Linked DNA regions of Homo sapiens: region 1 is reported to be linked to region 2. Evidence: microRNA targets listed by miRTarBase, many of them from high-throughput screens and not tested one by one. Region 2 holds a microRNA gene; the other region holds the end of a gene's coding sequence.

Region 1 (3,397 bases), not on the chromosome of region 2:
CTCTGAGTGTGAGGTCTGTGATGATTCAGTCTTTCCTTGAGTGTGTGGGTTACAGAGAGTCTTGCATCAGCCTAACTTGGGTGAGCCTCAGGGCTTTGGGTCTCCGTCCCTCTATTTCAGCCCCTGTCCCTCCTCCCCACCCCTGCAGTTTGCACTCTATAAGAAGATGACCCAGGCGGCCATCCTGATCCAGAGCAAGTTCCGAAGCTACTATGAACAGAAGCGATTTCAGCAGAGCCGCCGAGCGGCTGTGCTCATCCAGCAGCACTACCGCTCCTACCGCCGCAGGCCCGGCCCTCCCCACCGGACTTCGGCCACCCTGCCTGCCCGCAACAAGTAGGGCCCAGCCCCAGCCCTCTGTGCCCACCCACTGCATCCACGCCATTCCCCCTTACTCATCCTCTTGATCATCATGCCTCACTGCCATTCCCTGCCTAGGGTTCCTGGGGGGGCCGAAGGCATGCGATGCCTTCTGTGAGGTCCATCTTTTGTTTCTTTCACCAGAGGCTCCTTTCTCACCAAGAAGCAGGACCAGGCAGCCCGGAAGATCATGAGATTCCTGCGGCGCTGCCGACACAGGTACTCATCCCTTCTCCCCCTGGGCTTTTGCGTTGCCACCCGTCGTGATCCGCCAGTCTCCTCTGACTCCTATCTTTCTCTCTGCAGGATGAGGGAACTGAAGCAGAACCAGGAGCTGGAAGGGCTTCCCCAGCCGGGACTGGCCACATGACCTGGCCACCGCCTTTCTCACCACCCTGGGGGCGCCTCGTGCAGTCTTAACAGGGAGAGGGCTTTCTGGGGCAGGGGGAGCCCCTGTCGGCAGCTTTCCTGTTCACCTTTGTTGGAGCCCTCTGTAGGCCTCCTCCCTCCTCCCCACGCCTTGCTCCCACACCCCTCTCCTCGTCCCTCCTGGTCGTGCCCCGTCTCTTTTGGTCCTGGCTCCAGAAAACCCGCGCCCCACATACCTGCATCTTCCGCTGTGACCTCCGGAGCCCTGCCTGCCCCTGCTCCCCAGCTCCTCCTGCCTGCACCCGACTCGGCCCCCTCCTGACTTGCCTTATTTATTTGTTCGACGCGTCTCTGAATGTATCCGCCTCGGTTCCCACCACTGCCTTCGCTGCGCACGCCCCTCGTGTTTCAGGGCTGACCGTGTCCCCACCCGACTCCGCATGTTTGCGTCTGTTTCCTCCCTCTCTGGCCCTGTCTTACCCCATCACCCGACTCTGGCCACTGACCTCAGGGCCGAAGGGGAGGTGGTGTACATAGGAACGCGTTGCGGAGTCCGCCCCGTCCCCCGAGGGGAGGGGTCTTGTACATACTGTAACATACAGAGTATAGTGAAGAATCTATTTAAGGCGCCGCGGGGAGGGCTGCACGGCCGGGCTTGTGGTTCTCTAGCGCGGCGGGGGCCTCCTGCCGGCTCCACGGGCACTTTCTACTTGTGCATGGGCTTGGTTTATACGAATTGCCATTAAACATCGCTGCACCAGCCAGCCTCCGGCCTCTGTCTGCGGGGGCGGGGCGGGGCCTAGGCCAGCTGGAGGCCGCCATGCACCGCGGGCCTGGGATCTGCGCCCAGGCCAGGCGGGCCCAGGGTTTTCCGCCTCCGACGTGTTTCCGGCCTTAAAGGCATTCCGCCCTTCCCTTTAAGACGCACCGCCCCCTCTCAGTCACTCCCAAGATGGCGGACCTACTGGGCTCCATCCTGAGCTCCATGGAGAAGCCACCCAGCCTCGGTGACCAGGAGACTCGGCGCAAGGCCCGAGGTGAGGATCCCAAATTCACAACCGCCTTCCTTCGCCCGGTTCTCGGGACCATACTTCTCCCTCTTTGGACGATGCCGCCTCCTCAACCTTGAAAGACCCCTCACAGGCCCCTTCCGAGACCCTCAGAGTCCCTAAAAGGGCTGCTGACACGCCCGCTGTTCTTAGCGGACAGTGATTGGCTACCTGAAAGATAGCGCCAGCCTCCTGCCTCTTCTCCCGACCCTGGCCTTCCGCAGTCCTTGTTTCCCATTAGCCGGCCGTCCCGCCTGTCCGCTGCTGACCTGGTCTGATTGGTAGGGTGCCTCCAACCTGCCGCATTCCTGCCCCGCTCACCTCTAGCTCTATTTCGATTGGATTTAGGACACGCCATCTACTGTGCCTTCATCTCTATTGGCTATCTCAACTTAAAGCTCTGCCTCCTCAGGCCTGTTCGACCTTCCTTCGAAACCACCCCAGCCTGCGAATTCCCATTGGTTGCAGGGTCCTCTGTGTGTTCTTGCCCCTCCTGCTTAATTTAACCCAGTCCCTTCTGCCTCCCTCCGACAACCTTTTTCCCATCCGTAGCCTTAAATTCCCGAGCTGCCCGGGCGGATCGTAGTGTTGATTGGAGGGATGAGAATACCCGCCGGGTCCGATTGGCCACTGTCTCCGCCTGCGTTCTCGGAGTAGCTTCCCTGCGGGTGGGCTGGAGTTCGGCGGCCGGCGTAGGGCGCGGCCCTGCAGGGCGGTGGGAGCCTCCCCGGGGCTGCTCGTGTTGCAGCTTGGGATGATACTGGCGGAACGCAGGACCCCAACTCCCAAACCTGCGGACCTTGACCACGGACGAGCCCTGTCCCAGCTCCCCACGTGCCCCAGGGGGACCAGAGCAGGCAGGACGCCTTCCAAGTATTCAAGGGCCGCTGGTTGCCTACGCTTCGTCCCCTTGTTTCTTGAACAACCGTTAGGGACCAGGGGTACCCCTCAGGGAGGCCACAGTCCGGGGCTGGGGCGCTCATTGATGCAGTGATCACACGTAAGTTTAATAACCAACTTGATAAGTGCTCTGAGAGAAAAATAACTGTGAGAGCGGCCACCTGAGGTTCTCCCCCAATCTGCAGTGAGCCGAGATCAGAACAGGTAATTCCGTAAATGAGAGAGAGAAGCAAAGCGTTACAGGCAGAAGAGTCTATTTGAAATCTCTGAGAAAGGAGGAAGCATGATGGGAATGGGGAACTGGAATTCTCTAATGCTCCGATGACTGTCTAAGTGGGGGATCACCCGGCATTGACAGACTGGGAAGCTTAAATGAGTCACTCGCCTGAGGTCACATGGTTAGTTTGGTAAGTGGCAGGGTTTCAAACCCAGGTATGACTGGGCTCGAAGCCTATGTTCTTGACCATAATCTTGTGCCACTTCTCTAGATGCAGAGAAGACTCGAAAACCAGTTAAAGAACAGTCAGTGGGGCCCGGCCTTGTAGCTCACACCTTTAATACCACCACTTTGGGAGGCCGCGGCGGACGGATCGCTTGAGCCCAGGAGTTCAAGACCAGTCTGGGCAACATGGAGAAACCCCATCTCTACAAAAAATACAAAAATTGGCCGGGCTCACGCCTGTAATCCCAAAACTTTGGGAGGCCAAGGCGGGCAGATC
Region 2 (3,341 bases):
GGCGCGGCTTCGTGGGCATGTAGTCCAATCAGGGCCGCGCTGCCCCCGTCCAGGACCAATCCTGGCTGCTGGCGTCTGGGTCGCCGGTTGGGCGCGCGATAGGTTTTCAGTGCTGAAGGTCGACGGGCGAGAACTACAGTTCCCGTCAGGACGAGCGGAGCGGCGGCTTGTTGCATCCTTAATAAGGAGGTGCCTGGACTTCTAGCGAGAGTCCACATTTTAGGGGTCAAGGTTGTAATTATCTGGGAGGGAGTGCCTTTCTTTTCGCAGCTGAGAACACTTCTGAGTTATTCTTAATCCAAACAAAAGCGAAAGATTTTCATTTGTGGAGCTGAAACTCCTGGTCTTCAAGGAAAGACAGGAGTCATGACCTTGTGGCTCATTTCTGAGATTAGGGCAGGGATCTGTGTCTCCAGGCGCTGGGACTACTTTGACATTCAAGGAGCCTAAATACCCAGTTACTTCTAGTTTTGCGTAATTGCCAAAGTTACTTTCTAAAATTGAAAATTAAAAAGCCTGTTTCCACTGCTCATGATTTTCAGGAAGTTGATATTTTGGCAAAATGTAGATAGCAAACCAAGTACTGTGACTCAAGCAGTAATTGAACAGAATCCCTAGGAATAGTGAGTTAGAGATCATAAAAGTCAAGCTTTGTTTTTTCAAGTTCGCTTCTCTTCCTATTTGCTGCTAGGTAACAGAAGCAGCCCCTTCCATAGGAAAGTGGAACGAACCTGTGTTAGTTTTCTATTGCTGCGTAACAAATACCACAAATTTAGCAGCTTAAAACAACACCCATGAATGACCTTACGGGTTCTGTAGGATAGAAGTCTGGGCACGGATGATCTGTGTTCTCCGCTCCAGGTCACATAAGGCTGCAAAGTATTAGCCATGCTGTGGTTCTCATTTGGAGATCAGGGTCCTCTTCCAGGCTCATGCAGTTTGTTGGCAGAATTCAGTCCCTTGCAGTTACAGGACTGAAGTACTTCTTTTCTTGCTGCCTCTTGCCAGCCACTGCTCCCAGCTTCTACAGCCTGCCTACAGTTCCTTGCCTCAAGGCCTCTAGAGGCCATTCATAACATTGATGTTTGCTTTCGTGCAGGCTACCAGGAGCTTGCCTCTCTGACTTCCAAATTTCTTTTACTTTGGTCTTTCCTCTCTAGACCCAGATTTAAAAGGCTTATGTGATTAGACCAGGCCCACCTGGATGACCTCCTTTTCAGTTAATTCAGAGTCAACTTTTTGGGATCCCATTTGGGAATTAAGAAAACTAATTAAAACTTGGTAATAAAAAATGAACCCTTTTATAGCTCTGAATCAAGATGTCTAAGCTTCTTGAAATTGCTGTCTTGTAAAATTCTTTGGTTTATTCTCACCATCTCCTTAATTCTGTAGCATTTGACATTGCTGCTTTATGAGGCTCTTTGTACTTTTGGCTTCTCTCAAGTAATATTTTGGGTCCCATCTCTCTTGTTTTCCTTTACTGAGTCTGCTTCTGCTTTGTACCTCGAAATATACACCTTCTCATCTCTTCCTGTCTCTTTATAGACTCTCTAATTTGAGATTACATCAACTCTCAGAACTTTAATCCCCAAGCAGGTGACTCTCTAGCCTCGTCGTATTTGATTGTATCAACGTATCCAGAATATCTCACTTGTCAAGATCCTTTCCACTTTATTAAACCCCATCTTTCTTTTTTTTTTTTTGGATACGGAGTCTCACTTTGTCACCCAGGCTGGAGTGCAGTGGCACAGTCATGGCTCACTGCAGCCTTGACCTCCTGAGCGCAAGCAATCCTCTTACCTCAGCCTCCTGAGTAGCTGGGACCACAGGCATGTGCCACCATCCCTGGCTAATTTTTTAAAAAATTTTTGTAGAGACGGAGTCTCTCTGTGTTGGCCAGGCTGGTCTCGAACTCCTGGGCTCAAATGATCCTCCCACTTCTGCCTCCCAAAATGCTGGGAATATAGGCACGAGCCACCGTGCCCAGCCAACCCCATCTTCTTAAATGTCTTACTGCTTTTACTGTTCCCTCCTAGAGTCCATTCTTTACTCTAGGAGGGAATAGTAAAAGCAGTAAGACATTTAGTAAAAGGCTTTTTAAAAGGCAAACATGAGGTCATGCTCTTTGGAGACATCGCATCACATTCAAAATAAAATCTAAACTGCTTACCATGGGCCCTTGATCTGACTCTTCTCATATTTCATTTTTCTACTGCCTCACTCAGATTCTCCTGGTAATCTCCAGCATGTGCCTCACTGCCTTTTCATCAGGTGTTTCTTTTGCCCTGAACTCTTCTCACAGGTTTGCTTAACTTATTCCCTTCAGTTAATTTCTCAAATGTCACCTTCCCTTCAGAGAGGGCATCCTGATCCAAAATAGAATTCTGACTACTCTTGCCTTCCTTGTATCACTATATCTTTACCCCATCCTACTTTGTTATACTTTGTAGCTCCTAGCACTACCTGATGTTATAATGTGTATTTATTACACAGTTTCCACCTTTAAAAAGTAAGCTCCACAATGGAACTGTGTCCATATTTACTGCTGTATTTCCAGTATTAACAATAGTCCCTGGCTCCAAGTAGATGCTCAGTGAATGTTTATGACATATATAAATGAAAGAATGAATGTGTTCATGAATTTTTTTTTAATTTAAAAAGATTTTTTAGAGATGGGGTCTCATTATGTTTCCCAGGCTGGTCTTCAGCTTCTGGGCTCAAGTGATATGCCCACCTCGGCCTCCCAAAGTGGAATTTTTCTTAATCTGTGTAAGTGGATGTGACCTCCCTTTAAACATCCCATAGATTTTCAAACCTCTGATTATATATTCAGATTCTCCAGAGAAACAGAAACAATAAGGGTGTGTGTGTGTGTGTAGAGATAGGGTCTCATTCTGTTGCCCAGGCTGGAGTACAGCAGTGTGATCATAACTCATTGCAGTCTCAATCTCCTGGGCTTAAGCGATCCTCCCACCTCACCTCCTGAGTAGCTGGGACTACAGGCTTATGCCACCATGCCCAGCCAATGTTTTGGACTTTTAGTAGAGATGGGATCTCGCAATGTTGTTCCAGCTCATTTTGAACTTCTGGGCTCAAGCAATATCCCCACCTTCTCCTCCCCAAAGTGCTGGGATTACAGGCGTGAGCCATAGTGCCCAGCCTAGGAAGATTTATTATTTATTTATTAATTTTTTTTGAGATGGAGTCTTGCTCTGTCACCCAGGCTGGAGTGCAGTGGCGCCATTTCAGCACACTGCAAGCTCCGCCTCCCGGGTTCATGCCATTCTCCTGCCTCAGCCTCCCAAGTAGCTGGGACTACAGGCGCCTGCCACCACGCCTAA

The links. Region 2 holds the annotated microRNA hsa-miR-4779 (UAGGAGGGAAUAGUAAAAGCAG, at 2,053-2,074, shown strand). A microRNA usually pairs through its seed, bases 2 to 8, with sites in the 3' UTR of a target mRNA and lowers its output. Matches are read on the target gene's strand: a 7mer-m8 pairs with bases 2 to 8, a 7mer-A1 pairs with bases 2 to 7 and ends in A, and an 8mer does both.
Region 1: miRTarBase lists CAMTA2 as a target of hsa-miR-4779. Seed matches in the 3' UTR shown: 7mer-m8 at 865-871, 7mer-m8 at 905-911 and 7mer-m8 at 1,043-1,049.

The regions. Positions count from the first base shown.
Region 1 is chr17:4,966,089-4,969,485 of GRCh38, reverse strand. CAMTA2 (calmodulin binding transcription activator 2) reads left to right here. Exons shown (of 23, transcript NM_015099.4): 21 at 149-336; 22 at 505-579; 23 at 667-1,489. The coding sequence ends at 730. SPAG7 (sperm associated antigen 7) reads left to right here and starts at 1,669. Exons shown (of 7, transcript NM_004890.3): 1 at 1,669-1,766. The coding sequence starts at 1,682. It overlaps LOC124900387 (a long non-coding RNA gene), which reads left to right and starts at 1,773. Exons shown (of 2, transcript XR_007065587.1): 1 at 1,773-3,085; 2 at 3,167-3,397. RefSeq lists enhancers at 1-591, 1-624, 592-1,269, 1,270-1,946, 1,534-2,033 and 2 more and a silencer at 1,444-1,523.
Region 2 is chr2:86,191,770-86,195,110 of GRCh38, reverse strand. MIR4779 (microRNA 4779) reads left to right here and starts at 2,003; the gene lies at 2,003-2,085. The region is part of intron 1 of IMMT (inner membrane mitochondrial protein); the gene reads left to right. RefSeq lists an enhancer at 99-148.